Homo sapiens: one gene and its partners. The protein of the gene in region 5 interacts with the protein of the main gene of each other region in a pairwise test. Each region holds a gene or a part of one and is shown on either strand. Other genes may lie near its edges. The genes, in order: DNAJC13, RBPJ, CLEC3B, CEBPZ and RPS6KA6.

Region 1 (6,597 bases), on a different chromosome or scaffold from region 5:
GTGATCCGGCAACCTATAATATTGCAACATTGAAGCCTTTAGGAGAAGTAAGTTTCAGCATTGTTAGCTTAAATGAGATTTCTTTCTATTGATAAATTAGGATAATTTTCTTTCTATTTTAATGTTTACTCATGGCTAAAGAATATGGAATGGACAGAATCTGTATTTAACTCTTAACATATTTATATTAATTGATCATAGAACAATGATTATTACAAAAGTTATTTTCCAAGTATATAAAGAATGGAACTTATTACTCAACTGAAAATTTGAGATTTTAAAGTTTTAAACTCTTATATTGTAAACAAGTCACATCTTAAAATACTGACTTTTGTAAGCTAAGTGATGCATTTTATAATGAAATACTATAAAACTATAAACTTTTTTTTGTTGAAGCTATTTTTTGTTTTTTCATTAGGTATTTGCGTTGGTCTGTGACTCAGAAAATCCACAACTTTTTACCATTGAATTTATAAAAGGGCAAGTACGGAAATATTCTTCAACAGAGAGGTATTTTTTTTTTTTTAAGTTTTTGAAATCCTAGTTGTGCAAGGCAAAGTGCTTGGTCAACAAGGAAAACCAAAGATATGTAGTCTAGAAATTTAAAATCATTTAATTTGGGAAAAGACATTTTCTTGCATATTTAAAATGACCCTCCCATTTTCAATTTTTTTTTTTTTTTTTTTTTTTTTGAGACAGAGTCTCACTGTGTCACTCAGGCTGGAGTGCTATGGCGTGATCTTGGCTCACTGCAACCTCCATCTCCCGGGTTCAAGCAATTCTCCTGCCGCAGCCTCACAAGTAGCTGGGATTACAGGTGTGCGCCACCACGCCCAGCTAATTTTTTTCTTTTTTTCTTTTTTTGTATTTTTAGTAGAGATGGGGTTTCGCCGTCTTGGCCAGGCTGGTCTCGAACTCCTGACCTCAAGTGATCCGCCTGCCTTGACCTCCCAAAGTGCTGGGATTATAGGCATGAGCCACCACACCTGGCCTATAACTAGTGTTTTTATAGTATTTCCAGTAGTATAGTATGACCAATAGCTGTTTCTTGCCTTACAAAGCTTTCAGTCTAAGGTCAACAAGACTGAAATGTTAAGCAATGGTTATGTTTTTTTCCTGTCCTGAATTCAATGGAAAAGAACACCTTAAAAAAAAAAAGTATGGATGTTCTAATCAGAGGAAGGATCTTAACACTCTGTTTGTGAGATGCTTTATGTACGTTATCTTGCTTTGTCCTGACAGTAGCCGTAGGAAGAAGGTCCTCTTATTCCCAATAACACTTACATGCAGAAAGTAAAGCAACTTCTTTGTGACTTGGGGTTAAGAAAAGATTTCCCAGATGTAATACCAAAAACAATCTAGAAAAGAAGAAAAAAAGGTTGTTAGTTAGACTTCATTAAAATTTAGAACTTTGACACCATTTAGAAAAAGAAAAGACAGATCGCAGGGAGAAAATCTTTGCAAAGCATATAGCTAATAAAGGTTTTCTATCCAGAATATATACAGAACTCTTACAACTCAATACTGAAAAAAACCAAGCGACCCAATAGTAAATGGGCAAAAGATTGAAATAGACACCTCACTGGAAAAATATGAATGTTAATACATGAAAAGATCATGAATCTTTAGGAAATGAAAATGCAAACTACTACATATTCACTAACATGACTAACATCAAAAAGACTGCCAGTGGCAGGTGTTGGCGAGGATATGGAGAAAAGAACTCTCATACATTGCTGGTAAGAAGGTAAAATGATAAAACCAGTTTGAAAAACAGTTTGATAATTTCTTAAAAGATTAAACACATACTTATATGGTCTAGCAGTTCCACTTTTAGGTATCTATCCAAGAGAGATGAAAAGATGCCCACAGAGAGACTTGCACATGAATGTTCGTAATATCATTACTCATAGCCAAAAACAGAAGCAATCCATATCTAGATCAGCCAGTGAATAAACAGACAAAATGTTGCCTGTTCATACAATGGAATACTACTCAGCAATAAAAAAGGACTGACCTAATACATGCAACAACTTGGATGAATCTCAAAAGCCTATGTATGATAAGTAAAATAAGCAAGACACCTAAGACTACATATTCTATAATTCTGTTTTTATGAAGTTTCTTTAAAAAGCAAAACTATAGAGATAGATCAGTGGTTTCCTGGGGCTGGGGAGTGTTCTTTTGCAAATGGGCACAAGGAAATTTTTTGGAGTGATGAAAATATATCAGAACTGATGATGATTATACAGTTGTATAAATTTATTAAAAATTATCAAACTGTACGTTTTAATTGGATGACTTGTGATTTGTCAATTAGAACCGAGTAAAGCTGTTAAAAATAATTTTAAAGGGAGAGAAAGAGAAATTAAAATTAGTGTTTAAGTAACTTGTACAAGGTCATGTAGCAGCACGGTGAAGAGCTAGTATTAGAGCTCTTCCTAAAGCCCCACTGTTTGTGTTTCCCATTGTAACTGTAGTGTGTCCCTGAGCAGATTACCTGCTAAAGGGCCTATGCTTCATGCTAGATCAAAATTCCCCTTAATCATCAATGCTAAAACCTTTTTTTACTTTTAATCTTACTTAGAGATTCCTTATTAGCAAGTTTGCTGGATGGAGTAAGAGCCTCTGGTAATAGAGATGTTTGTGTAAAAATGACACCAACCCATAAAGGTCAGCGATGGGGGTTACTCAGCATGCCTGTTGATGAGGAAGTAGAGAGCCTTCACCTCAGGTTCTTAGCTACGCCTCCAAGTAAGTATTGATTTAAATGTAATTACATTTCCACTCATCTACTTAATTTAAGAATTAGGAATTCGTATCTTCTTTTTGAACCTCTTAATCTCTTTACAGATGGCAACTTTGCAGATGCTGTATTCAGGTTCAATGCTAATATTTCATACAGTGGAGTCCTACATGCAGTAACACAAGATGTAAGCTAAGTTTTATCATAATTGTTCATTGTTACTAACTTTTGGTATGGAAACTTTTTTGAAATACTCTTTCTTCACCTAGGGTCTCTTCTCAGAAAACAAAGAAAAACTGATCAATAATGCCATAACAGCATTACTGTCCCAAGAAGGGGATGTCGTTGCTTCAAATGCGGAACTTGAGAGTCAGTTCCAGGCTGTGAGGAGGCTTGTGGCATCCAAAGCTGGTTTCCTGGCTTTCACTCAGCTTCCAAAGTAAGTTGTCTTCTGAAACTTAACTTCTCTTAGAGAATTTGAACTACTCAAAATGGCAAATAATGAACGATTCACCTCCTTTTCCTTGACTAAACCAGATACCTTTTATAGGGTGATATGGTACTTTATTCATGAGAAATGAAAAAGGAAGGTGAGGGCAGCAGAAGCGGAATATTGGTCCCATACTCACCAGTAATATAACTGACTCTTGAATTTGAATGGGAAATTACATGCCTTTTAGTTTTAGTTAACCCTAAAAAATATTTTCCCTCTCAAAGAAAAAACTATTATGAAGACTGATAAATTTCAGAGGTGGAATTTAAAATACGTCATTGTTCCAGTAGTGCAATGGAAAGTTAATATGATCTATTTCAATAATATAACAATTTAAAATGTTCTGGTATTGCTAGTATATGCTTGTTTTTTGTTCCAAAAGGTTTCGCGAGCGTCTAGGGGTGAAGGTAGTAAAAGCACTCAAAAGAAGCAACAACGGAATAATCCATGCAGCAGTTGATATGCTTTGTGCCCTTATGTGTGTAAGTAGTAGTTTTCTTAAGGAAACTGGTTTTTCTTAAGTTGACTGGTGGTTTTGATTTCCACAGTCCCAGATTTTCATTGTACCAATAAGTTCTTGTTTCTGTTTCATAAATTGTTCTCATAGTTACTCAAACCTTTGTTTAGCATATCCTAAATACCAGGCAATGTGCTGTGTGCCAGAAATTCAAAGATCTTAAGACAGAAGTTCTTTTCTTCCTCACTTTGTTGACAGTCTGGTAAGGTAGGCATATCTGTACAAGGTAAGGTAGTAGGGGCCATAGGATCTTGAAAAGCAGCACTTTATTTTTGTTTGGTGATGAGGGGAAGATGAAAGATTCTCACCCAGTCTTTCTGGAAGATGTTACATTTGATCTGAATCTTGAAGGACAGGCAGGAATTTTCTAGCTCTGGAAAGGCCTTCCTGGGTGGGGAATAGCATATAAAAAGGCATGTTTGGAAAGCAACAAATAATTAAATATGGTTGGGTTATAAGGTATGGATGGGGGGTAATTAGGAGTTGCAGCTAGAGATGTATGCAGACAGTAATAAAAAACCTTCTGTATCAGGAGGGAGGAGCTAGATTTTTATCTTTTTGTAAGGAACACCTGAAGGATTTTTTTTAGCAAGAGAGCAGTAATGTGATCAGGTTTGAGTTTTTAAAAACCCACACTGGTAGTATGTGGAGAATAGAAGTAAAATTAGAGGCAGGTAGACCAAATTGTCACGTAAGAAATGAGTTGCTGAGCTAGGGTAGTCACAGGGCTAAAGAAGCAGCACACCTGAAAGCTGTTTGCGCAGTAAAGATCTAACTTAGTGGCAGCTTGTACAGAGGGAGAAACAATTGTTTAGTACAGTTTTGAAGTTTCTGATTATCTCAGTTTTGTGTGTAGTACCTGGGACTTTTCCTTATATAAAGTGTTTTAGGCAAGCTTAGTCGTACATAAACATAAGTAAATACTTCTGTAAAACCTTGCATTCCCAAAAGCAAATTAATTTTATTTACTGTTCCAAACAAGTAGTGAGATAACTAGAACTTAACAATGATATGGAGAGTTGCTTTATTCGAACAAAAGATGTTCCTATTACCCAGGAAATTCTAATGGTAGAGAGCTTTGTGTCAGGCTCCCCTATCAGGAAATTGCAAAGTTCTTAGGAGCTCTGTGTCAGGAACCAGGGTAAAAGACTGTTGCAACAAAAGATTCTGCTAGTGCCCCTGTCTGCAAGGGTTTTAGGTGCTCTATGTCAGGAGCCAAGGATGGAGACCAATGTATATATTTTTTAATATTTCATGTATTCTCCCTGCTCAGAATTCTTTCCCTGCTTATTCATTAAGAGCTCAAGTCAGCTTTTAAATGAAGCTTACCAAATATACACACCTACTATGTACCCACAACAATTAAAATAAAATTTTAAAAATAAATGGAGCTTTCTTATTCCTGAAGGTGGTAGTGATGTATCCCTCCCTGAAGTGAGATTACCCTTCATAAATATTACACTTGTCTTTCTTAGCAATTTCTTCTTTGAATTATTGCTATTTCTAAACATGATGTATTTTTCTCAATCTGTCAGCTTCCTGAGGATAATATTCATGTTTAATTTTAATTTTTATCCTTAACAGGCCTTGTCAAGCTGTTTAATAAATAATGATTAATTTTTTTCTGTGTTTCAGGTACTATTCTATGAATTTTTCATATATTATTCAGTCTTCCAATGAACTTTAGAAGTTATTACTGTTATATCTATTTTGTAGAGAAGGACTTAAGGCCCAAGTAACTTGTTCAAGGTCATGTAGCTAGTAAATGGCAGAGGAGGCTTCAAGCCCACTTTCTGGCTCCAAAGTTTATACAATTAACCATAGTAACATACAGTATTTGCTAAATGAGCAGAAACAAAAAGGAAGGAAATTCTGACACGTTTTGCAACATGGATGAACCTTGAGAACATGATGCTAGTGAAAGAAGTCAGTCACAAAAGGATAAATATTGTATGATTTTAATTATATGAGGTCAAATTCACAGAAAGTAGAATGGTGGTTGCCAGGGGCTTGGGAGGAAGGCAGAATGGGGAATTATTGTTTAATGATTACAGAGTTTCAGTTTGGGAAAATGAAAAAAGTTCTAGCGATGGGTGGTGGTGATGGTTGCCCAACAATGTGAATGCTTAATGCCACTGAACAGTGTAATTTAAAATGGTTAAGATGGTAACTTTTGTTATATGTAGTTTACCACAATAAAAAAAAGTAAGAAACAATGCTATGAAACAAACATTGAGCCCTCATTACATATTAGGTGTTGGCTTTGTATCTTACATGAATTATCTCATCTAAGCATCATAGTAATGTTACATAAATACTATTACTCCTACTTTACAGCTGAGGAAAATGAAACTTAGAGACTTATGTAAAGTAACTTACCTTGCGTAACGTCTCCCAGTTATTGTCAGTAGTAAAATTAGGATTGGAGCTCTACTCCTAACCATCACGCTGGAATGTTTTATACACTCAAAAGAAAATCACCCTGAGACAAGTATTTGTTGTTAATTTTAGTACATTTAAATGCTAAGTTTTATTTCAAATTTTAGTTATAAAATTCTGGGTGGGCAAATGTTTGCCTTTTAATAAGATCTGTGACTTTTGAGAGAGTACCTTTTGTATATGTTGAGTTAATTGTTGGGCAAATTATCTGTGAAGTCTGATCAAAATCATGGTAAATCGTCACTTCTGCCTGCTTATCACGAGTTTCCTTTTTGCCTTACACTTTAAAGGCAATGGTTTTTAATTCTTTCAATGTGTAATGAATACTGTTTATAAATGACTTTTGCGTGATGCTAGCACATGGGACTGCTTATGAATTATCACTGTTTTTTTTTTTTCATC
Region 2 (6,597 bases), on a different chromosome or scaffold from region 5:
TATCTGACTCAGACAAGCGAAAGCACTTCATGTTGTCTGTAAAGATGTTCTATGGCAACAGTGATGACATTGGTGTGTTCCTCAGCAAGCGGATAAAAGTCATCTCCAAACCTTCCAAAAAGAAGCAGTCATTGAAAAATGCTGACTGTATGTATGCTTTTCTTATTTATCCCCAACTGCCACCATGAATTAATAAGACAGACTCTTTTTTAAATTAAAAATTGCCTTTTCAATAGCCAATTAATTCTTTACTAATATTTTTGTGGCCCTCTTTATTGTCTCTCTTTTTTTAATCGTAAATCGACAGTATGTGGTCTAATGAAGCAGTTCTTAACCAGAGTTGGTTCCTTAATGCTCCCAGGGACATTCTGGGGAAATGGGAGATTTTCTCCTTCTGTTGTTACAGTGACTGGAGGGGGTGATGTTGGCTTTGGGTGTCTTGAGCCTGTGGTGCTGAATTGAATGTCCTGCAGTGTCCAAGGTAGTTCCCATTCCACAAAGAATTGATCTACCCACAATGTCAACAAGTACCCCTTTGAAAAACGCTACCAACTAAATGGGCTTTGGCAGGCCTTCCTGAGAATCTAAACACAATTTTTAATGTGGTTGCTCTGGCAGAGACTGCTGTCTCATCAGCCTATTTTTAGACTACCAAACAAGTATGTTTGAATTATAAATTTAACCTCCACACCCATTTTTCTTTTTTTAACTTTTTATTATGGAGACTTTTCTTTTTTTTTTTGAGATGGACTCTTACTCTGTCGCCCAGGCTGGAGTGCAGTGGCAGGATCTCAGCTCACTGCAACCTCCACCTCCCGGGTTCAACCAATCCTCCCTGCCTCAGCCTCCTGAGTAGCTGGGATTACAGGTGCCCACCATCACGCCCGGCTGATTTTGTATTTTTTAGTAGAGATGAGGTTTCGCCATTTGGCCAGGCTGGTCTTGAACTCCTGACCTCAGGTGATCCACCCACCTCGACCTCCCAAAGTGTTGGGATTGCAGGCGTGAGCCACCATGCCTGGCTGAGACTTTCAAATTTATATAAAAGGGAGAAATTAGCCACCCAGCCTCAACAGGTTTTATCAATTCTGTTTCATTATCTCCATCACCACCAACACCTCTTCGTCTTCTAATTGCTGGAGTATTTTAATGTAAATCTCATCCTATCCTTTCAACCAAAATTTCTGCAATAGTGACTAATACATGCCCTTTTTTTTGAAACATCATTATACGTAACAGTTGACAGCAGCTCTTAAGTGTCATCTAATATCCTATTTCATGTACAGATTTATCAGATTGACCCAGAATGTCTTTTTATAGTTTTTTTGCTTTGTTTTGTTTTACAGTGGTTTGTTCAAACATGGATTCAGATAAGGTCCACACATTTTAGTCTGTAATAGTTTCTTCTCACCCTCTCTCACCTTTGTTTTCCTTCTATGTCATTTATTTGTTGAAGAAACTGGATCATTTTTCCTGTTGTGGAATTCCATATTCTGGGTTTGGCTGATTATATGTTTCTCTGTCTCTCTTACTTTCCATGAACTGGTGGTTAGACATAAAGACTTTCAGAACTGATTGGTAAGATATACATTTATTTCCATTGGATTGGAAGTCATAATATCTGATTATCCCCTTTTTTTTTTTTGGTCATGTTGAGATTGATTATAGTAGTTCAGCTGTTGTAAGTCTATTCCACCCATAAAGTTCCTCAGCAAACTTTAACCTAATGGTTTTAATAGTCATTGATGATGTTTAAATCCATTTCATTAAATGCTGCAAAATGGTGATATTCTAATTTTTTAAATTCTAACTTCTGCATTCGTTAGCTGGAGTTTTTTCTACAAAGAGGGACTTTGCCATATCAGCTATTTGCTTCAATTGTAATATGTAATGAAAAGGCAGGATTAGGTGCTTGTTTACTCATTTGCAGAATAATAACATTCCTTGAAAGTGACCAGTGGGGTTTTAGGGTTTTTGTTTTGTTTGCTTTCTTTTCATTTTGTTTTATTATGAGATCATGGTTTTTGTTGTGGTTGTTGTTATTGTTGTTGTTTTGTATTGGTTATATTTTAGTCCACTCAGTCCACTAATATCACTTAGTTTTTATTACGGAAAAATTTCAAACACTCTCAAGTAGACAGAGTTGCACCATACAGTGAAACCTCTTATGTTCATTCTCTAACGTCAACAGTGATCTTAACATTCAACCAATCTTATCTTCATCTATACCTGTACTCCAGCCCCACTTTCTTCTGCCCTTATTTTAGTTTGATGCATATCCAATCAGTGTTCAAATTTAAAATGGTCTAAAATATTTTAAAAATCAGATTGCTTGAATCAAAATTCAGATCTACCACTTAGTACAGTTTATATTGTGATATGTCCTTGAGTATAATCTATGGACACCCCCTCAACTCTTGCAATTTATTTAAGTAAGTTGAAACATTTAGTCACTAGAGATTTCCACGTACTAGATTTTGCTGATTTCATTTATTTGGTATAGTTTAATGTATTTTCTGTAAATTGGTAGAGTCAAAAAGAAATAGAGCGTGGGCCTAGTTGGAAAGACAGATTTCATTCAGTACTATTGCAATAGGGGAAAATAGAACCAAGTTCCATTTCAGAATACAACAAAGACACTTGGGGATGAAGCAGAGTGAGAGGGTCAATGGATGGAAACTTTCTAAAAGGAGACATCAAAGGTAGAAGGTTTCTTTCTGACCTGACTTAGGATTCCTGCTAAAGGCAGGCCAAGGTGATCATAGATCCAGAGTGGGAGATAGTTTAGGAGGATTCTTACTATATATAACTGAGCTAAACAGACTGATGACGGGGCTCAAGGACAAATACTAGTTGATTGCTCAGAGCAGCCTGCTTAAAAGTATGGTCAAGGAGAGAATCTTTAGTGTAGAATGGTGATCAGATTTAAGTTTGTTGTCCTTTGGTTCTTGTTTTCTTTCTGAAAAGCAAGACCTGCTTCAAAGGTGGTGGTGTGCTCTCTTGCACTAGGAGGTATATTATGTCTTGTATTCAGGCTATTTGCATTTCAGATTACACAGTTTTATGTAACTGCTTTAACTTTGTGTTTGTACTGAATATTAGTTTCTTGATGGCAGAGAACATATTTCACTTTCAGAATGTTTTTCTGCTTACATGGATTTATTTTCAAGAAATTTCATACAATACTTTATTTAGAAGAAAGCAGAATTTTCTGAAATCACAGTATGCAGAGGCATTTACCATCAACTCTGACAAACATCCTTCTGGTCCCTTTTCTATGCATGTATTCTGTGGAATTGGATGCAAACACATATTAAAAATATATACATTTGCCTAATGGAACCACAGCATACAGAGTATTTTATAGTCTGCTTTTCCATTCAGTGATATTCCAGGAAAATATTTTCTTATCAGTGTGTTTAGATACACATCCTTTCAATAGGTCATCATTTAAATTTCTACTGTCTAACATTATTTTAAAAGTAAGTTTTTCTCTAATAATCAGCACCACATTAAACATACTGTGTAGCTTTCACTTTAAAATTATTTTTATGGACATTTGATATCATTAGCTTGACATTATTAATAACAGTTACCTTGACTTTTTGATATCATCTGTACTGTCTTGGAAAGTGAAAATATTTGTCAAACTGTTAAATGATAAGAAAGAATAATTATACACTGCCAAGCAGAATTTCCTTCTTTTGCTCCCTCCCCACCTTCTGCTCCAATCACATAAATAAGAGCTGTTTTTTCTTTGCAGTATGCATTGCCTCAGGAACAAAGGTGGCTCTGTTTAATCGACTACGATCCCAGACAGTTAGTACCAGATACTTGCATGTAGAAGGAGGTAATTTTCATGCCAGTTCACAGCAGTGGGGAGCCTTTTTTATTCATCTCTGTGAGTATAAAAGTGTGCATTTAATGTTTTTAGTGTGAAATTGTTAAAATCTTTTGATGAGATACATGGATATATTAAGTTTTGTCATTTGCCTAATCATAAAATAAATTTAAAAAGATGACAATTTGATTTATTTTTCCACCTACTGCAGTGGATGATGATGAATCAGAAGGAGAAGAATTCACAGTCCGAGATGGCTACATCCATTATGGACAAACAGTCAAACTTGTGTGCTCAGTTACTGGCATGGCACTCCCAAGATTGGTATGGCTCTACTTTTGCTTTAGTGATAATGTGAAGTAAAAATTAATTTCTTAAACAGGAAAATCACAACATTCAAATGGAAAAACACACCTCAGTTTTATGCTTTTTAATTTTAAAAGGTATGTTAGTAATCAGTGCTGTTTATAATTGACAGTTATGCTCTACCTTATTTCAGAAATGCTTTAAGGTAATAGCCAGTTTTTACAAGTACATTCTTAATGATTTTTTCTTAAATGATTTCCAATATATTTTGGTGGCAATTTCCTTTTTGGCTGTTTATCTGAAGATGTTCAGTAGAGGGCACTATAAATTACATTTCTTTTCTTTACTAATGCGGATAAACCGTATTCATTTTTTTGTGGTACCTGCCATATCCCAATGTAGGACCAAGTTTGCAAACAGAAGACATTCTTATTTCTTTTGAAATATAAGCGTAATTTTTGTTAGCTTACTCTCTCACAAGAAGATAGATTTATTAAAACTGAAATAAAATTGGTATTTCTAACTGGGAGCAGGGCATAGGATTTAGGGCTTTTGTTCAATAGAAGACATTGAAACTCGGCCACGCATGGTGACTCACACCTGCAATCCCAGCACTTCAACAGGTGAAGGCAGGAGAAGGAGAAGTGACTAGCCCTGGCATCACTTGAGCTCAGGAGTTCGAGACTAGTCCTGGCAACATGGTCAGACCGTCTTTACCACTGACCCCGCCCCCCCAAAAAAAAAATTAGCCAGGCATGGTGGTGCACACCTGTAGTCTCAAGCTTAAGTGGGAGGATCACTTGAGCTCGGGAGGTCAAGGCTGCAATGAGCGGTGATCGTACCACTGGACTTTAGCCTGGGCAACAGAATGAGATCCTATCTCAACAACCACAGAAAAGGAGATCTTGAAATTGTAAAAACTACTTTTGTTAGTAAAATGAAAACAAAAGTCCTCTATAGTGCCACCACCCTCCCAATTTTCCCTCTCCTTTTCTCAAACAATATAATTTACTTATATTCAAGATGAAGGGGATTTATGAGTAAGTTTGATTCAAGGTCAGACTGAAGAGGTTGGGTGAGTAGAAGAACATTTAGTATTAATGTTCCTAAACATGCCTCCTATTTATCTTTTTGGTGCAATATTCCACTGGCTTATATTTTCTGGGGTCATTTCAGCAGAGGCTGGTTTGATCTACAGTTTTCTAAGCCAGTGATTCATTTCTTTGTTACTGTTTTTTTTTTTTACCCTCTGTCATGATTGTACAAGGTGATTTTATTTCCCATGTCAATGCAATAAGCTAGAAGACATGAAGTATAGTAATAGTAATCTGTAAAGCTTTGCAGCTGAGACAAATTATAATAAAAAGGGTAACGTTAGGGAATGAAGGGCATGAAAAACAGAGCAGGAGACAGAAGCAAGCAAAAAATCTGAATCAGCATTTATTCATTTTTTTTCTCTTCTCATTCATTTCCTCTGTTCCAAGGATGATGTTCATTTGCTTTGGTGTTAAATGCTTGTACTGCAGAAGCACAACTTAGGAGGATGATTCTGATCACCAATAGTTTATAATACAAACCACTTAGAAGACAGACCCAAATTTAAAACAATGTTTTCATTTACAGTTGTTTGTAAAGTACCAGTAGCCTGCCTTGCTTGAAAGTCATTAATTGAGGTTTTTACACTCAAAACTGTATGGCTTTATATAAAAATGTTGCAATGAAAAATTAACTTATTAGAAAAAGTTGCAGTACCATTATTAAGACGCTGATACATAAATCTTTCCAGGGGTTTCATGACAGGAATTCTGACATGCAAAGTCGAGTGCCTCTCGTCATTGAGTTTACATTTTGATAGAGTGATAAGCCAAATACCCATGTAAAGGATTTATGTAGTGATGAAAAAACAAAACAAGATAATAAAGGGATAGAGAATTGGAGGAGCGCTTAGAGAGGTCAGGGAAGTCTTTTTGAAGTCGCAGTATTTGAAGAGAGCCCAGAATGAAGTCAAAGAACCGGTAATTGAGTGAGGAGCATTTCAGGCAAACAGAACAAGTACAGAACTGAAGGCAGGGGATGTATGATGACTAGTAAAGAAACCAGTGGAGCTGGAGCGGAGGGAGGAGAGGTCAAGTGGCAGGAACTGAATCTGTAAGGTTAGCACTAAGCAAGACCTTGTAGGATCCCTCTCTGTATCTAGGGTAAGGACTTCATATTATCTCTGCATGTTAGAAGGCCACTGGAGGATTTTAAACGGGGCACGATGGCCTATTTTTGTTTAGAAGTATATGTGTGGCTGCTGTGTGGAGAAGAGAGCATAGCAATGCGGCCGTGGAAGCAGAGAGACAGGTGCTTGGATTGTTGTCATAATTGAGGCAAGAGTTGATGCTATCTTAGACCCAGGATCATAGTATTAAGGTGGTGAGGGGTGACTGATTTGTTGGAAAGTGGAC
Region 3 (6,241 bases), on a different chromosome or scaffold from region 5:
CACCTGGCAGGGAAGCTCCGGAGGGAAGGATGGCCTCATAGGAGTCACAGGCCTTTAGAACAGGGAACTGGGGGAACCTGGAGGGCATCCATTCTAACATCACGCAGAAGGAACCTGAGGCTCAGAGAGTGGGCCAGCACAAAGGCCTCCTGACTCTGCCCAGGGCCGTAGAGACACCTACTCCCACAGCTTCCTCAGGTGGAGCTAATGAGAGTAGCTTCCTGTACCTTGGACAGTCCCTGGAGGAAACTTTGCACATATGGGCACCTTGGTGCAAATTACAAAAGGTACCTCCTCTAAACTGACAAATTATAGAAAGGCATCTCTTTTTCTGGTCTGACCCACTCTAGCCAGGGCAAGGCTTAGGAGACAAATGGGCCTTCATGTGTCCCTCAGCAGAATGCCCTTCTTCAGTGCCCCCTTGCACAGCCTCACATGGCACCCTATGCTGGTACATCACGTGACTGGGTACAGTGCTGCTATAACTGGTGGAGGCAGTCTCTGTGTGAGGCACACATGACCTCAGGCTGGTTTGCCAGCCCCAAACTCTCCCTTTTTTTGCCTTGCTCATCAGGGTGTTTTTGCTCCAGTTTGGTAAGTTACATCGCTAATTTCTATATACACAACCATGTGTCTTGCCTGTGATTCTTCTGCAAAGGCACCTTATGGGTGGACGAAGGCTCTGATCTCACTCTTTGTGAGTGTGGAATGTATGCAGACACAGCCAAATGGACCATTAAAGTGTTTCCCCACCCACTTCCCCAAGCTGAGTGCAGCCTTTCCTGAAGCCCTGGTGTTTCAGAAAGACCAGGGTCCGCCCCAGGAGCTCTAAACTTACACACACATAGAAATATGCTTCCCGGCACCCTCAACTTACACACACATAGAAATATGCTTCCCCGCCTTCCCCTGCTGACTCTTACATGACTGGCTGCCAGCAGGACAGCTCCTGTTAGGAATCCGTTTGTGTGCCATGGGGAAGGTGGGGAAGAGCATGGCTTCAGAGCCATGTGCACCTGGGTTCCAGGCCAGCCCTGCCAGCTGGGGCTCTGCCATCCTCGGCCAGTTGGTTTAGGGCAGCCTGGGTTTCCTCATGGTGAAATGCTGGTGGTACAGAATGACACGTTACCTGTGTCATAGGGTTGATTATGAGCATCACATGGGGTGACATGTAGAACGGCTTAGCCCAGAGCCTGGCCTCCTCTGTAAGAGTGGAAAACCTGGGTTCCTTCTGCCCTCATCTTATTAGTAGCTGTGATGGGCACACACTCAGCCAAGCACTGAGGTAGGCAGCTCTGCGTTTCAGTTCTCTTAGTCTTCTCCAGAGTCCTAGGAGGTGGGGCTGTCATCATCCACTTCATACATGAGGGAACCAAATCCAGAGAGGCTGAGCAGCTCGCCCAGGCCACCCGTGTCTGTGGCACCTCCAAGCCCTGCATATGCGTGCCCCAGGCTGGAGTGCCTGCTGGTCTGTGTCGCATTCCTCCAGCCTGGGGAAGTGAACCTGGGGGCTTCTTGAGGGCTCCTGCTGTGCTTCCTGTGCTGTTCTTCCCTGGAGCTGAAAAGGTAGCTGGGTGGTGGGGGATCACTGAAGCCTGTGCCTACACCCTCACCCCTGCCTCTGCTAATCCCAGCCCCATCTGATCCCCAGCAACAATCCCAAACAAATGCAGCACAGGAGCAAGTGAAGGATGGGCCCCCTGGCAGAAGTCACAAGTGGTTAATTAGACTACCACCAGCAAGGATAGAGAGAGAGAAAGTTTCCCAAGATATCAAGGTTGAGGGGAGTCTTTTCCTCTCATCCCTCTGCAGCTAAGGTAGGATCCTTCCTGCTCAGTCCCTGCCCCACCCTGACATATTTCCTCCTGCTTCAGATGTTGTGAACACAAAGATGTTTGAGGAGCTCAAGAGCCGTCTGGACACCCTGGCCCAGGAGGTGGCCCTGCTGAAGGAGCAGCAGGCCCTGCAGACGGGTGAGTGCAGGCAGTAGCCTCTCTGGGCAGGAGCGTCTGAGAGAAGGGCCCAGGCCAGCAGCCAGCAATGCTCTTCTCGCCTCCGTTCAGCATCAGGGTCCTGGCTCCATTAGTCCAGGCCTATGGGTGAAGGCACCAGGTTCAGGGAGCCCCACCTCTTTCTCTTGGGGAGATCCCCTGACACGTGTCTGCAAAACTCACCTGGATGTGTACGGCCAAATCTCTGGCCACAGCTGGGTGGTGTGGAAGTGGGGATGTCCCAAGAGGACAAAAAATTCTCCAACAAGAATCCACTACTGCCCACCAGAAGTGACCCTGGAGCGCTCGATGGGGCAGAGGTAGTGGCCCACCCTAGCAAAGCTCCCAGGAGCCCCTCACTCAGCTGGCCTCTGCAGCCCCAGAGAGCTCCACACTCCTGTGTGTCAGCAGCTTTGCTGACCCTGTCTCTCTTAATCGTAACTCTGCTGAGGTGGGATTTGTCAGCTCCATTTTAAAGATGAGCTGTCAGCTCCATGAAATGTCAGCTCCATTTTAAAGATGTGTCAGCAGCAACTGAGGCATAGACAGGTCCTGAACCTGGCTCATACTCACCTCGTTGGTTAGTTGACTCGTGGAAGAGCAAGAGTTGAATGGAGGCAGGCTGCCCAGTGCCAAGCTGGGCCTTGGTGTTCCTGGCTCTGCACTAGCCAGCTGAGGGAGGGTGCACAGAATCACCAAGAACAGGGCCCAGGCGCATGGTAAGGTCATGCCCTCTGGCCAGCATACCTGGCAGCCTATTGTTTCTCACTCCCCATGTTCCTGTCATATAGTCTGCATTTTCCACATACCTCCGATTTACCTACCTTTATATGACCTCACCTTCCATTCTATGGAGAACACAGACTCACAATACTGATGACTATTTACATGTGAGCCCACTACATTCTGGCACTGTTCTTGATGCTTGATGCAGACTCACAATACTGATGACTATTTACATGTGAGCCCACTACATTCTGGCACTGTTCTTGATGCTTGATGCACGTTAACTCATTCACAGCACACCCGTGCAGTGGTCCTGTTACTACATCCTCACCCTTATTTTCCACCGAGAAGGACCTTGTGACAGCCGAAAGGAGCAGAGCCTCACTTAGCTCTGCTATGCTGCCCCTCGAGTTATCAGCTGGGAAATCACCTTGACTCCTCAGCAAATCTATAAACCACCCTGTGTCCACAGCCACTCTCTTACCTGTTGCTTTTGTGACCAAGGCCCATCCATCTGCAAGGCCTTCCCTTCCCCGCCTGCCTCCTCAGAAACCCCCAACAGCCTTCTCACCGGATGGTTTTACACACTCCCTCCCATTCATATGCTTTCCTTCAGCATTCACACTGCCATCCTTCTGCACTCCCACCACAGGGCCTTTGCATGTGCTGTTTGGGCAACCTGAATTGCTCCCCCAAGATCCACCTAATAAATGCCTCCAGCATTATCTTCTCAGGAGTCACTAATCCCTCATCTCAATCAGCTCCTCAGTTATAAGCTCTCCCAGAACAGTGTCCTTTCTTTTATCACACTGACTGCAGTCTGTAATGATACACTCATTTCCTGATTTGTGTCTGCTGCCTCCACTAGACTATAGTAAGCCCTGAGAACACAAGGGCCATGTTTGCTTTTCATTGCCCTTGTCTCTTCCACTACCCTGCCCAGCATAGTGCCTGCCACATAGCAACACTCAGTCAATCTCTGTTGAAGGAAGGACAAACATGTAACTTTGGACAGCTTGCTTGGCATGGCAGGTAGGAAGAGAGTGCTCGAGAAAGGGAGCATCTCCAGAGGTGTTTTTGACTTCATGTAATAGGAAACCTATCAGTGGCTTAAACAAAAAGTAAGTCTGCAAGTAGGTAGTTATAAGTTTTTGTTCAGAAGTTTCACCTCATGGTCTTCAGATGGCTGCCCCAACTCCAGGCATCATGAGTGCATTCAAGGCAAGAAGGAGGAAGAGTAGCCCAACCACATCTGTCTCATTTATAGGGAACGTAGTCTTCCACTTCCATCTCATTGACAAGAAATCTATCATATGGCCACCTGCAGCTTTAAGAACATCTGAGAATGCAAGAATGTAGCTTTTCCAGCCTCTATAGTGGAGGTGGACAAGAGAGAAGGGATTTGGAGGCAACAGTGCCTGGCACAGCGGGTATGTTTAGAATGAGCCCAGTGCCACTCTGAGCCTCAGTTTCCTCATCTGTAAGGTAGGCAGGGTAAACTCTAAGGTCTCTCTCATGTCTAAGCTCTGTGCTGTGCAAAGTCAATGTAACCCAGGCATCAACTGCCACCTGGGGTGAGGTAATGAGGTGGGGACCTCCCTGAAAAAAGTTCATGACATATGGAGGCCCAAAGCATGACATATGAAAGCCCCCATGTCTGCTGATTTCTAGGAAGCTGCTGGGCTTCTTGGGGCCTTCTCCTGTTCATTGTCCTCACAACCCAAAGATCACCTTTTCAATAAACCCACCCAAAGCATTGCAGAGCTCTGTTGACCTAACCAGAGTTGAAGGAATCAGGGGGCAACCTTTCCCTCCTCCAACCAGCATACACATGGGAGGTTCCCACCTGGTACATCTCTGCCAGGCACAAGGAGGCAGAGGTGATGCAGCCAGGGCCCTGCTCCCTGGGAACCTCAATATATTCATGGAATCACTTGAGCCCTTGAAAGCTGTGTAGGAATCAGAGAAGATAAAGAGGGTTGATTCCAAGCAGATGGCAGGGCAGGAGCAGAGGTGTGGAGGACTAGCATAAATCGACAGGATCATGAATAGACCAGAGCAACAAAATGTTGGCAGCAATGATAGTATCACGAGAAGTAGCATTGACTGAGGACTACCTATGTGTTGGAGGGAGGTTCAGGTGAGGGTCCTAGGAAGCAACTCTGAGATGGAGTTTAACCCACAGGAGACTTATCAGGAGATACCCTCAGGATCAACCCCTGTGCTAGGGAAGGGATGGAAGGAAGCAGGAGTGGGCAGAAGGAGAAGTCGAGCTGTACTGTGGTGCCACGAAAGCCTCAGCTGACTTCAGGAGCCCTGATGACGGGATGACCCTTCGGCACTGTCCTGAGTCGGGGCAAGAGGGCTTATGGGTCAGTCTTGGGTGTAGGCTGCTCTAGGGAGGGGCACGGCCTTGGAAGAGATGGCTGTCTTCTGCTGAGGCAGTCCCTGCAGGAGGCTGAAAGCTGAGGACTTTCTTCCTGCAGCATTCCTGGCAGCCAGGGCAGTGAATCCTTCATCCCCAACAAAAGTCTAGGTAGCACGTCAGTGTTACCAGCAGGAAGGAAAGGCAATGAAGGCCGCTTGGCTAAGCTGTAGGATAGCACGAGGTAGGACAGCTGACTTGGGGCAGAGTCTGTGGGTAGACACCTCTGTAATGCTTCAGGCCCCATGTTTAAAGTCGGTTGTGGTGTCAGATGCCCATGGGGACACTGGGATGCTGTCCATTGATATTTGTTGAGTGAAATGGAAGTAACTGAGTGGGAATGGATAGAGGGGAGTGCAGACATCCCCCAAAGTGGTGGGGTCACCAGCAAGAGGACAAATGCAGACATACACCTGTCTGTCAAGATATTCCTTTCCACAGAAATCTTTAGTAAAAGGTGAACGATTTATACGATCTCAGGAGAAATCAGAGTATGTCTAGATATTTCAGCTAGAAATCAAGCTGAAAATGCAAACTGCAAAACAAAAATAGATTTTATCCTCCTAACTTGACCAAATATGTGCCTTCATCACAACCTTTGGGGCCAGGCTCAAACTGAGAATTTGTGGACACCTCAGAGTCCCTTGCCTGATCGCCGGCCTCTGACCACAGCCTGTGCCCAGCACTTCCTGTCTTCTCTCTTGCAGTCTCAGCTCTATCCACTCAGCCCCACCCTACCAGCCCTCAGGAGAACTGACCCTGCAAAAGGCACTTGGCAGGCCCTGGAAGCTTGCTTGGGCTGTTTGGGTAGGGATTTGGGGCCCTGGGTACATGAAGTGTGGCCTAGGCTGTAGGTGGGCAGGTGCCCTGGCCCTGCAAGCTGCTTGATCTTAGGGAGGGGCATGGAGGAAGGAGAACCAGAGCAGGTGGCTGTGGCTGGGCTCCCTGGGAAGCTGACTCTGAGACAGAGCTAATTTGTTAGGGTGAGCCCTAGGAGCCACACATGTGGGGGCGGGGGGAAGAGGAAGTGGGCAGAGGGAGAGCTGAGCTGCAGTGCAGGCACCAGGCCAGCCTCTGTGACCCAAGGAGATGGGGTGGG
Region 4 (6,597 bases), on a different chromosome or scaffold from region 5:
GGAAAAGACAAGAAAACCACACACTCAAAAATGCCTATTCCTGTGTCTGTTGCTGTTGGTTTTTCCTGGTGCCATCATCATCCTTTTCTGGTCATTGACTTCCATCTTACCTCTTAGGGCAGGGTCTCTTGTTCTAAAATAAGCAGCAAAGTTATCCCTAACTAAGATGAGGTTAGTAGCTATTTCTAATATGTGACCATTGGTTGTGGAGATGGTTTTATACATAAATATTTGACCTTGGTTTTGTTTTGCAGGAAGATGTTGGATCCAGGGTTGATGACGTGTTCCAAGCAAGCTATGTTTCTTAACCTTGTCTACAAATCTCTGAAAGCTGACATTGTGTTGCGCCGGGTGAAGGCTTTTGTGAAGAGGTTACTTCAAGTTACTTGTCAACAGATGCCACCATTTATATGTGGAGCTTTATATCTTGTGTCTGAGATCCTTAAAGCAAAACCAGGTTTAAGAAGCCAACTAGATGATCATCCGGTATATTTTACAACTGCTTTTTAAATTGAGTGGGTGCTGAAATATATTGGTTTTTGTTTTGTTTTTCTTTGCTTCAAATGACAGTAACCTAGTTCTCTGGAGCATATGAGTGTGAGTTCTGGAATAGGACAAACCTAGATTTTAGTACCAGCTGTACAGTTTACTAGGTGGGCATGTTGCTCAACTCTTCTACTTGCAATAAACTGTACTATACTAGAAGCTACCATTATATGAGATTTGGAAGACTATAAAACTTAGTAGACCTCTTAAGTCTTCTTCCTTAACAATGAAATGGAAATAATAGTACCTACCTCATAGGGTTATTTACAAGTCAGAAATTTACTTGAGGGCTAATTGTTTTCAAGTATTAGAGTCCTTAAGGCTCAGGGGTTCTTAGCTCAAAACTTAACTGTGTTATGTTTAGAAATAAGGATGTAATCTCCTCTCTTGTTTAAATACCATTGATAGCCATCATTTTACTTTATTAGAACTTTCACGTTTCACCAGAGTTGCAATAAGTAAAACTCTGCATCACATAATGGAGCACAGACTTTATTGCAACTTCCAGTTGATTTATGTAGATTTATGAAACTATACTTTTGTTAGGAGTCTGATGATGAAGAAAATTTTATTGATGCAAATGATGATGAAGACATGGAAAAATTCACTGATGCAGACAAAGAAACAGAGATAGTGAAAAAACTTGAGACAGAGGAAACAGTTCCTGAAACTGATGTAGAAACCAAAAAACCAGAGGTTGCTTCCTGGGTGCACTTTGATAATTTGAAAGGTGAGTTTTTTTCATCTTTATTCTCTAGGGAGTTTGTTTCTCTTTGATTTTCATAGAAAATAGCATTCTACCATTTTATTTACTTATTTATTTATTTAGACAGAGTCTCACTCTGTTGCCCAGGCTGGAATGCAGAGGCGTGATCTCGGCTCACTGCAACCTCCGCCTCCCAGGTTCAAGTGATTCTCCTGCCTCAACCTCCCAAGTAGCTGGGATTACAGGCATGTGCCACCACACCTGGCTAATTTTTGTATTTTTAGTAGAGGTGGAGTTTCACCATGTTCGCCAGGCTGGTCTCAAACTCCTGACCTCAGGTGATCTGCCTGCCTCAGCCTCCCAAAGTGCTGGGATTACAGGCGTGAGCCACTGTACCTGGCCCACAGTTTCTTAAAGTAATGTTTTAGGGATAGAAAACTTTCTGTTCAAGATAGAAACGTTAAGTGGTTTTCTATACACACACCAAACTAAATTAAAAGTCTATTAATAGAATGTTAGAGTCAAAAAAAAATCTTAGAAATGCAGCCCCTTCATTTGAGGCTGTGAAGAAAACACCAGCCTTGAGGTTCGAGAAATGTGGTGCCAGACCCATTTCTTCAGCTTGCTTTGGGACTCACAGTCAAATTAATTCATCTACAAATTTCAGTTTGTGAAGTACAAAAGAGAAGTCTGATAGCTGCCAGAAAAGTTTGAGAAGAATCCATCAGTTCCCCTGAAGACTAAACTGAGAATAATCCTTTAGAAGGATGAAGAGCTTGTGTGTTGGAAGGTAGTCAGTTCCTAGTTTGTTCTGAAAAATCTTTGTTTTAAATTTTTTTAATCCTGAGTTTCTAAAAACATGAAGATAATGTCAGACCTGTTCCAAGTGAGAATTATTTCTGGGCATACTTTCATGACAAATATTTGAAGCACTCTAAAGCTCCAAAAGACTTTAGACCTAGTTCATCTTCAGATTATTTCCATCTTAACGTTTCCACCTCTTTGGCCCCAAAATGGGCACCTTTTGTTGCCATTTAGGAAAGGGAGAAGTTTGGGGTTTTTTGGTTTGGTTTTTGTTTTTTTTGAGACAGGGTCTCACTATGTCACCCAGGCCAGGCTGGAGTACAGTGGGCCATTATGGCTCACTGCAGCCTCAAACTCCTGAACTCAAGCGATCCTCCCACCTCAGCCTCCCAGGTAGCCGGGACTACAGGCTCGTGCCACCAGGTATGGCTAGTTGTGTTTTTTGTAGAGACGAAATCCCACTCTGTGCACCGGCTGGTCTCGAGCTCTTGGTCTCAAGCAGCCTTTCCACCTTGGCCTCCCAAAGTGCTGGGATTATAGGCATGAGCCATTGTGCCCAGCCAAAGGAGAAGTTTTGAAGGGAGCTTTTACTTACTTATTTTTGAGTCAGGGTCTTGCTCTGTCAGGAAGGCTGGATCACAATGGCACGATCTTGGTTCACTGCAACTCCCATCTCCTGGGCTCAAGTGATCCTCCCACCTCAGTCTCCCGAATAGCTGGGACTACAGGCACACACCACCACACCTGGCTAGTTTTTTTGTTGTATTTTTTGTAAGAGATGGGGTTTCACCATTTTGCCCAGGCTGGTCTCGAACTCCTGAACTCAAATGATCCACTCGCCTCAGCCTCCCTAAGTGCTGTGATTACAGGTGTGAGCCACTGCACCTGGCCTTGAAGAAAGCTTTTGGTGTTTGGGATAAACATGTTCTCTGCTTTATTCAAGAGCAGATGCTAGCTTAAGTACCAAGACAAATTCTTGAGGGAGCTCAGAGTTTTTAATCTAGGTTGCTTGGCTAAGTAAGAATGTTGGAGATATCTGTTGAGAATATTAATGGTGGTGCTTTTAATGACCTCTTGGGCTAGGAAGAAAGCATTTGAGAAATCGTATTTTTTTTGTTATTCCTAGGTGGGAAACAGTTAAATAAATACGATCCATTCAGTAGAAACCCTCTGTTCTGTGGAGCTGAAAATACAAGTCTTTGGGAACTCAAAAAGGTAAAATAATTTCAAATTGTCTTTTATTCATTTATGCTATATATATATATATATATTTTTTTTTTTTTTGAGACAGAGTCTTCCTCTGTCACCAGGCTGGAGTGCAGTGGCATGATTGTGGCTCACTGTAACGTCCGCCTTCCGGGTTCAAGCCATTCTCCTGGCTCAGCCTCCCAAGTAGCTGGGATTACAGGCGCCCACCACCACGCCCAGCTAATTTTTGTATTTTTAGTAGAGACGGGGTTTCACCATGTTGGCCAGGATGGTCTTGATCTCCTGACCTTGTGATCCGCCTGCCTCAGCCTCCCAAAGTGCTGGGATTACAGGCATGAGCCACTGCGCCCGGCCTATGCTGTATATTTTTGCCCTTGAGGATGTAATGCCTTGAAGTTTTTGTTTTTTTATGATAATTATAAGCATTAATAAACATTAAAAGTCCACATTTGGGGGAAGATACTATGTGAAGTGTTCATTTTGTAGAAAATCTTAAGTGTGCACGTAAAATAAGGATGTCATGCATGGGTTATGACTGTTGCTTTTTGTAGGTAGATTATTGCATATAGAGTTGAGAAAATGGATAAATTTTGCTTTATTTATTAGATACCTCTGAAAAGTTTTATGATAAAATTTTTTGCAAGTAAAGTTACTTTTCTGAATTTGTAAGAGGAATTCATATTTTTAATAACCTTTCTGTGACTTTTTGTGTAAAGCCAGTAAGTATCTTATGCAGCTATTCTCAAAGTGCGGCCAGACCACTAAGAGTTCCTGATACCTTTTTAGTGAGTCGGCCAGGTCACAGCTCTTTCCATAGTAATACCAGTACATTATTTGTTTTCATCACTGTGTTGACGGTGGCACTGATACTATAAAAGAAATGATAGGTAAAACTGCTGCAGCTTATCCTGAATAAAGACAGCACCAAGCTGCATCAGAAGCCATTATATTCATCACTGCCACATATGTGCAGTTAAAAAAAAAAAAGCCAGTATGACTTAAGAATGATGACACAGGGAGAATTACTGATTTTAGTGTCTTGACCTTAAAGTAACATGTCTTTTTAGTATTTCGTGTGCATACATAGCAAGTATGCGTAACATACCTGTGCTGCCTACCTAAAGCATGAAGGTTGTCACGTGTCTCAAGGACAAGTGCTTACCAGTTGTTGCAAGCTCATCTAGCTGCTCTTTCATGAAAGACTGACAAACTGGTTATTCAGGCTTAGGTATTTGGGAGATATTTTCTTGAAAATGAATGAAACAAAAAAGCTGGCAGTATTTGTTGTCAGCAATAAAATTCAAAAATAAAGCTTTCGAGCAAAGATTAAAGTTTTAAAAATCTTGTAACCACCACCTTGAGCTTGACAGTTTCTCAATTTGTAAAACTTTTCTGATGAAATCAGTGGTTCTAACAATGTGATTGTTGTGGTAAAGTATAACGAAATGTGCCAGTGTTTGGAAGGACTGCATATGGTATTTTTCCAATGACCAATGCACAATGTTACAAATTCTTTTTTTTGAAACGAGAAGGTTCTGTCACCCATACTGGAATGCAGTGGCGCGATCTCGGCTCACTGCAACCTCTACCTCCTGAGTAGCTGGGATTACAGGAGCATGCCACCATGCCCAGCTAATTTTTTTATTTTTAGCACAGACAGTGTTTTGCCATGTTGTCCAGGCTGGTCTCGAACTCCTGACTTCAGGTGATCCACCTACCTCAGCCTCCCAAAGTGCTGGGATTACAGGCATGAGCCACTGTGCCACCTGAATGTTACAAATTCTTGAGTGAATAAATGATTGATTCAAAGTAGACCAAATAATTTTAAGTAGCAAGTACCAAAAGCCAATTGAATATGGGTTTCAGATTCCATATTACAACTAATCTTTGGTTTTGGTATAGTACTAAAGAAGAAAATTCACAGCTATGTGAAAGACTATTTTCTACACATGAGGCCAGATTGTATGTTTCAACGTGGAATACAGAAGCAGATGAAATAATCCACTCTCTTCTGTTAAGCCAGACATTAAAGAGATTTGCAAAACTGTAAAGTAATACTACTCGCTATATATTTCGTCCTGAAGCATAATTATTTTTCTTTTTTTCTTTTTTCTTTTTTTTTTTGAGGCAGAGTCTTGCTCTGTCGCCCAGGCTGGAGTGCGGTGGTGCGATCTCAGCTCACTGCAAGCTCCGCCTCCCGGGTTCACACCATCCTCCTGCCTCAGCCTCCCGAGTAGCTGAGACTACAGGCGCACACCGCCACGCCTGGCTAATTTTTTGTATTTTTAGTAGAGACGGGGTTTCACCGTGTTAGCCAGGATGGTCTCGATCTCCTGACCTCGTGATCCGCCCGCCTCGGCCTCCCAAAATGCTGGGATTACAGGCATGAGCCACCTCGCCTGGCTGCATAATTATTTTTCATAAATATGCTACTTACTAGTATGTAGTAGCTTTATGGTTTTTGTTTTTGTTTTTTGTTTTTTTTTTTTGAGACAGAGTCTTGCTCTGTTGCCTAGGCCAGAGTGCAGTGGCGCGATCTCGGCTCACTCCAAGTTCCGCCTCCCAGGTTCACACCATTCTCCTGCCTCAGCCTCCCGAGTAGCTGGGACTACAGGCACCCGCCACCACGCCCGGCTAATTTTTTGTATTTTTAGTAGAGATGGGGTTTCACCATGTTAGCCAGGATGGTCTCGATCTCCTGACCTCGTGATCCGCCCACCTCAGCCTCCCAAGGTGCTGGGATTACAGGCATGAGCCACCGCGCCTGGCCGCTTTATTGTTATTTTTAATGGACCTATAAGTATTTACAATTTTTCTGTTTATTTTTATAACATAGGTGTCTGTAGATATAAACCTGTTGAATAGAAACTGATGGAATTTTTGGTTTTTAAGTGTAGGAAATGGTCCTGAGACCAATATGTTTTGAGAATCACTTTTTTAATGTATTGGCTTAAATTTCAAATTTTTGCATTTTCATTTTTGTTGTTGTTGAAATAGGGTCTCACTCTGTCACCCAGGCTGGAGTGCAGTGGTGCCATGTCAGCTCACTGCAGCCTCGACCTCCTGGGCCCAGGCAGTCCTCCCACTTTAGCCTCCTGAGTAGCTGGGAGTACAGGCACGCGCGCACCATCACACCCTGACTATTTTTGTACTTTTTGTAGACATGGGGTTTCGCCATATTGCCCAGGCCAGTCTCAACTTCTGGGCTCAAGCAATCTGCCTGCCTGAGCCTCCCAAAGTGCTGGAATTACAGGTGTGAGCCACCACACCCAGCCCGATTTTCTTAAATAAGCTATAAATGTACTAAGAGTCGACCTTAGAAATATTGATAT
Region 5 (6,597 bases):
AAGGATTTTAAAGTGACTATCATAATGATCCTCAACAAAGTAAAACAAAACATGCTTTCAATGCATTAAACTCTCAGCAAAAAAAGGGAAGTCTCAGCAGAAAAATAGAAACAATAAAGAAGAAACAAATAAAATGTAGGACTGGTAAAAAAAAATGCTGAAATTCCCCCATGTGATAAGTTCCCTACTAGTACTCTCTATTTCATGTAAGTTATCCTTATCTTTAATCAGAGTTTACTATGCTAAAGCTCTTTAAGGACAAGGACCAGGTCTCACTCATGTTTGAATCCACAACACTTTTTACAATGCCTGGCCTGTAGAAATGCTCAATATGTGTCTTATTAATTTAGTTAATTGAAGTAAGAACCTGAAGGTTCATACAATAATAAAGAAGAGACGCCTATGATGCTTTTCTCAAAAATTCTCTTCATGCTTTATTTTAGAGAGGGTTGGTAAAGACAATCAAATAATTAAATTATAAAAAGCTACTGTTTAGCATTATATATTAAAAAATACTGAAAACACACTTTATTAAACCACACACAAAATTGAGTACTATTTTTACTAATTATAAGAGGGGCTCATGCAGAGTTTTCATTATGTCAATTCTAAATTGCCATTTTAAATTTCTTTATTAAGTTGGTACATATCTACTATTACAACTGATTCAAACTTAAATTTTTAAATTACTCCCTACTTTGTTTTTTTATACAGTTATATATATTAAAAGTTCCCTTTTTTTGTAACTCAGTTCATTTGCCTTCTTTATGAAAGGACAGGAAGCAAAATAACAAGCCTGCCCCTTCACCACAAAATTTAATATAGTAATACTTGAAATGTTTAGAATACACATTTCTTACTGTATTTAGGGAAGGAGCTGGCAAGGTTCAAGATACATGTTAGGTAATCTGAACTTTATATGTTAGGTAACTTGAATAATAGTCACTGTATGTCTTTGGTTAATTCTTTTATGTTTGACTTTTAAGTCTAAGTTTCATAATTTCAAGGTCAAAGTTAGGTACATTTATATAATTCAAACCGCTTTTTAAATGAATATGCTATTAAATCAGGGCCAATTGGCAGAGAGAAAATAATTATTTCCTAAATCCATAAACTTCACTACATTGTGAGTTCTATTAGGATATTCTCTATAGAAATATATGTGAATAAAAGCAACTTATTTTAGGTGGCATCATCTCCTATATTTTCATGAAGATATAGGTCCCAGAATAGAAAGAAAAAAGTTAACTACAACTTACTCCTTGACAATGAAGATAGTCAACTGTCTTACTTATTACATATAGTATATCACTAGCCTCCCGTTCCGAGAAACATTTTTGTTTGAGAATACGGTCAAGTAACTCTCCTCCTTTCATTAAATCCGTAACAAGGTAAACATATCTACCATCATCAAAGACCTACAAAAGAACGCAGTTTTAAAATGTTATTATTTATAATTACAATTCTATAATTCTTAAATTAGATTTTAATTATATTTACCTTTCTACTAGACTTCCCTCTAGTATTAGAAACAAAAAAGACATTATTCCTTTACTCTTAATGCAGTACAGGCTGTACTAAAGGTTGAATTGGCTAAACAGTCACCTACACAGTCCCATGAAACCATGTTAAACATATAATTTTATTGCCTTTTGAAGTTATAGGTTGCAGTTCATCAAAGAAAGAAATTAAAAAATAGAACTCTGTGCCTCTCAAATGACCTCTATCTCAATTTTTTTACTGTATTATAGCTACTTCTCTTCCCCAAACGTAAGCTTCTTTCTGAAAGTAAATACATTATTTATTTTTTATACCCTTCCCTCAGTTCATTATCTGATTTGGTATCTTAAATACTGGTTGAATTCCAATAGTATACCAAGGAAAACAAATAAGAAAAGTATTTATACACTTTTCACTCAGGGCATGTATGATAAACACACACACACACACACCACAGTAGTTTAAAGATTACAAATCAAAGTGCATATCATTTTCTGACACAAATTGATCAAGGTGATAGTTGACTTTTCTGTCTTGTATAAAGAGAAAAGAACATTATCTCCTTATGTGAAAAGTGAGCATTCAGTAACATATTAATGAGTTATACATTCATTTTACAAAACTATAGACTAAGACTATTTCACTCCAGAAACAATCCATAATGCTATAGCCAATTACTATACAATCAAGAAAGTAAAATATTCAAGAATTTGGCAGATCCCCAGTCTCCTGTATCTTCTGTATTGATAGCACTACAGAATAATAATTGGTGTTAGCTACAATGTTAACTAGTTAACCAGCCAGAATATATTCATGTAATGAGGAAATTCTCATTTACCAATCATCATAGTTATTTTTGATATTCTATAAGACTAGAAGTATAGAATCATGGGAAAAAAAAGAATTAAAGTGGCAATTTAAGAGTCCTGAGATTTTTGAGGCATGAAAATAAATATGCTAAAGACATTAAAAGTTTCAATAAGAAAAATAAAGTTCCAATTCATAACTTCATTAGCTTAGCTGATACCTAGATTTAGAAATACCTACATCCTTCAAAGTAATAATGTTGGGATGTTGTCCATAGCGCATCAATATTTCAATCTCTTCTGAAGGGTCTCGCTTACTTTTGTCAATGATCTAAGAAATACGAAAAAAGAAAAATATCTGAGGCAAACAAATTATTTTGTCTAAAATGAGTATTTTCCATTTGGTTATATTTTTGAAGAAATGCTTAAAAACTCAAGAACAATACTTACCTCATATTATTTTAACATTTAAAAACATAAGTAAAAAACTTAACAGAAAAAAATAAAATTTTAACATTATATCCTATTTCACTGAAATTGTACCAATGATGACGTGATTGTAATTATCACAACTGCTCAATCTTAACATAATACATGTATAACAAAATTATTCAAATGCAAAAATTCATGAAATACACTGTTCCTACATAACAAAGGCTTGAAAAGAAATTCAAAAATGAAAATATTAAGTCTCAGAGTTCTTTCTCATCATCTTATCTTTCCTATCTTCATTTACTCCACTGAAAATGTTTGTCAGTTGACTCATAATTTAAATTACATGCATAAAACAAACAAGAAAGCTAGGCTCAGAGACAATACCTTCACTGCAAATTCCATGTTGGTAGTTGCATGTATGCATCGCTTGCAAACAGAGTAGGAGCCAACACCAATATCCTCCTTCAATTCATATACTTCACCAAATTGTGCAGCATTTCCATTTATCTGTTTATTTTTAAAAAGTAAAATACTAAGGAGAATGAAATATTTTCACATTTTCTGTCTTTTGTCCTAAATATACATTCATCTTAAGCCTTAAACTAGAATAATTCATTCTACAGAAGTTTTATCGACATTTATAAATGGCGTGAACCAATCCTTTCTTGATACCCACAGGCAACATAATAAAGCAACTAGCTTATACATCACCCTTCTATTTTATTCAAAAGAGGCCACATAAATATAATTAAAAGTTACCACTGTCTGCTCTTTTCCAAAACACACAGGGACATATTTAATTCATGATTTATACCAATAGATAAACAAAGAAGTTAAAAATCACTTTAAAAAAAACGATTAAAAATACATCAGCAATAACAGAGAAATAATTATCCCAAAACTGAATAATGTGATTAAGTGGAATTTACCTGAACAATTGGTAATACATTTGCACTTGTGATAGGAGTGATTTTATATTCTTCTGCAATAGAAGTTGCAACAAAGCTGAATCCTTTGAAGAGCTGATGAGCATTTGCACTGGCTGGCAAACCGGGAGAATCTAATGTCCAAATAATTACATTTAATTATAACTACACACAGAATTCTATGATATAAAGTGTCAGAATTTCTTTAACTATAAAGGAAACCATTAAATGCTACTAACATATTATATATTTGATTTATTATATATTATCTGTCTCCTCCCATCTGTATACATGCTCCATTTTAGTCAGTATTTTTTGTCTGTTCTTTTCACCACTGCATCCTCATTGCTTAGTACATAGTAGGTATTCAATATTTCTTGAGTGTATGTATGAAACTGTAAAAGACAGAGTAATATATCTCACGTCTTACCTCCTACCCCATCCTGTAAATCATTAGCATGCCAAAGGACTTATAAAACAAAGAAATAAACTTGCCACCCTTTGACCAAGTTCCTTCCTTCCTGATAAATATTTCCCATTTAAAACATCTACTTGACAGCTGCCCAAGCAATGTTTTGTATAGGATCCATATTTCCCATGGACAAATCAACTCTCTGCAAATTTACCATTCTTTTAGTTTTTACTTCACAAGAAAGTTTATTTTTAAACTATCTACTTAAATAAAATCTCTGATTTTACAGATAAACATGCATTACCTTTAGGTGTTTTTGCAGTAAATTCAGGATCAAAACAAAAAGTATCATCTGGTTTTCCAGAAGCAGGTTTGAAAGGAGGTTGAACTTCTCTTTTATATAATTTCTAGAAGGGACAACCAGATAACACAAAACGTATTAAGACTTTAAAAATTATTATACTTTGTAAAACAAAGCAGAACATAATATTCACAGTCCATAATAGAAGACTAACAATTTCATAGTTTCAGATAACTGTTAACCAAATTCTAAAATTTTGAGAGATAATGTTCAAGATGTAATGAGGCCAAGAAACATAGCAATGATGCCACAAGCTGAATTCACAAGGAATGCTCAATTTTGGATATCAGAAGTTTTTGAATGCTCATTGATAATATAACCATGCAAATACAGCACAGTAATAACTAAAATGCTCAAGGCTTTCAAAATCAATAATTATTTTTAAAAAGTGCATATTTCATCTAAAATATTGTTTTCACATAAAAAATATACGTTAAATGTACTGTTTAGGCTTGTATCAGATAATTGAAAATTTAGTCGTCTAACAATCTATCTTGCTAAAATCTATGCTTTTGAAAGGCATAGAAAATTTCTAATAATATATAAAAGCCACTTCTTTTGAAATCTATTTTTTAAAAAGCTTACAGTCCCACAGTGGGGAAAAATAAATAGGGAATTACTTTTGAGTAATTTTTATGTATTTAAATATGTAAACATGACTTTTAGTTCATTATGGCTTACTAGAAACAGCTAGTGGGCTAGTGGATGCCTCTCTCATGGTGAGGAATCAAAATAGCAATAAATATTGACACTTCAAGTAGATTTTCTAAGAGGCCACACTAGAATTCATCAGAGAAGTGATGGAATTGGGAATCACAGAAAGAAGAGAACAAAGCCATGCCGTCAGGTGAACTGAGACTGGTGTGGAGCCAGGAGATCTTCGATGCAGGGAAGGGAAGATTGAGTGAGAGACCCCCAGGATTCCACAATTCTGCCACAGACTTTCAATGCTAACCATAGGTAAACCCCCTTGAATCCCCTAGGCCTCCAGTTTAATACACGGAGCTGCCTGGAATCTGTGCAGAGGTACTGCTCAAGCCCATGTGGAATCCCATGGACTTTTGATCCCTGAGCAGCCTGGCGCCGGCTGCTGCCACCTCACTAGGCAGGGAGCAGGGAGGCTGGTACTTGTGCACACCTCAAAGACAGATACTGCAGCTGCAGTACAGAGGAGTGAGCAGAATGCACGCTGCAAAGACTGCCGGTCTCAGCTGTTCCCTTCTAAATGAGGCCTCCCTTCTTCAGTGTTGGGTCTACAGCACAGCTGCCCTGCCCTTACATGTATATACTGGCCACAGCCTGGTGTTCTTCTTAGAGCCCAGCCCCCAGAGGCTCGTGACCCGCTCTTCAGCTCCCTCAATAGCTGCGCCCAACACCACCATCACACTTGCCACTCCTGGGCCAAGGAGACAGTGGGGAAACTGGGCACCTTTGTGTGCCCACCAAAGTGAAATCCACTGCTGCTCCTTCAGGAGGGAAGTGCAGGTGGGCCAAGCACCCCATAGCTGCCAACCTTCATTGCTTCAGCTGAAGGGGTCTGCCTTCCCCAGTGAAAGGCCAGCAGCCCAGCGGCCCTGCTCCCAACTATTTCACCTGTTACCTGGAGGCCTTCTGAGAGCCTAGCCCCCCATAGGCCTGTGATGGGCCTTGGGACTTCGACCACATAAGCATTCTGCAGGCCATTCTGAGAGCCCAGACCCCAAAGCATGTGATCAGCCATGGGAATCCCACCACCAGAGCGTTCTGTGATAATCTGAGAATCCTGTGGGCCCTTTTAAGAGACCAGCTCCCACAGGCCTGTGATCAGCCATAGGGACCCAATCACCTGAGTGTTTTGCTATATTCTGAGCATTCTGTGGGCGCTCCCGAGAGCCCAGCCCCACAGGTCTGCAATATGCATTGATGCACCAACTGCCTGAGCATTCTGCAACTGCCTAAGTGTTTTGTAGGCCCTTCTGAGATCCCAGCCTCCACAGGCACATGATGTACCCTAGGACTCCCACTTCCAGAGTACTCTCCCTGCCTCTGCTTGAGAGTTCTGCCTGTGACTCCAAGAACCAGCCCATCACTCCCTATCATAGCCAGCAGCAGGAGTCTAGAGACTTAACAAGTCCACTGGCCTGGTCCTGGTCCACTTCTTACAGGACTCATACATGC

What was found.
Region 1: the proteins of RPS6KA6 (region 5) and DNAJC13 interact in a two-hybrid assay, tested with the Homo sapiens proteins (one large-scale study listed by BioGRID and IntAct).
Region 2: the proteins of RPS6KA6 (region 5) and RBPJ interact in a two-hybrid assay, tested with the Homo sapiens proteins (one large-scale study listed by BioGRID and IntAct).
Region 3: the proteins of RPS6KA6 (region 5) and CLEC3B interact in a two-hybrid assay, tested with the Homo sapiens proteins (one large-scale study listed by BioGRID and IntAct).
Region 4: the proteins of RPS6KA6 (region 5) and CEBPZ interact in a two-hybrid assay, tested with the Homo sapiens proteins (one large-scale study listed by BioGRID and IntAct).

What each region holds. Positions count from the first base shown.
Region 1 is NC_000003.12:132,453,648-132,460,244, forward strand, and holds part of DNAJC13 (dnaJ homolog subfamily C member 13), read left to right. Parts: coding exon 1-47; intron 48-418; coding exon 419-510; intron 511-2,587; coding exon 2,588-2,754; intron 2,755-2,853; coding exon 2,854-2,933; intron 2,934-3,015; coding exon 3,016-3,185; intron 3,186-3,621; coding exon 3,622-3,721; intron 3,722-6,597.
Region 2 is NC_000004.12:26,420,579-26,427,175, forward strand, and holds part of RBPJ (recombining binding protein suppressor of hairless), read left to right. Parts: coding exon 1-147; intron 148-3,763; coding exon 3,764-3,901; intron 3,902-4,052; coding exon 4,053-4,165; intron 4,166-6,597. UniProt on the Homo sapiens protein: Transcriptional regulator that plays a central role in Notch signaling, a signaling pathway involved in cell-cell communication that regulates a broad spectrum of cell-fate determinations.
Region 3 is NC_000003.12:45,028,953-45,035,193, forward strand, and holds part of CLEC3B (tetranectin), read left to right. Parts: intron 1-1,190; exon of another isoform or gene 1,191-1,285; intron 1,286-1,874; coding exon 1,875-1,973; intron 1,974-6,241. UniProt on the Homo sapiens protein: Tetranectin binds to plasminogen and to isolated kringle 4. May be involved in the packaging of molecules destined for exocytosis. Plays a role in retinal function.
Region 4 is NC_000002.12:37,217,059-37,223,655, reverse strand, and holds part of CEBPZ (CCAAT/enhancer-binding protein zeta), read left to right. Parts: intron 1-254; coding exon 255-486; intron 487-1,092; coding exon 1,093-1,276; intron 1,277-3,182; coding exon 3,183-3,271; intron 3,272-6,597. UniProt on the Homo sapiens protein: Stimulates transcription from the HSP70 promoter.
Region 5 is NC_000023.11:84,103,240-84,109,836, forward strand, and holds part of RPS6KA6 (ribosomal protein S6 kinase alpha-6), read right to left. Parts: intron 4,487-6,597; coding exon 4,384-4,486; intron 3,802-4,383; coding exon 3,671-3,801; intron 3,249-3,670; coding exon 3,126-3,248; intron 2,638-3,125; coding exon 2,548-2,637; intron 1,419-2,547; coding exon 1,260-1,418; intron 1-1,259. UniProt on the Homo sapiens protein: Constitutively active serine/threonine-protein kinase that exhibits growth-factor-independent kinase activity and that may participate in p53/TP53-dependent cell growth arrest signaling and play an inhibitory role during embryogenesis.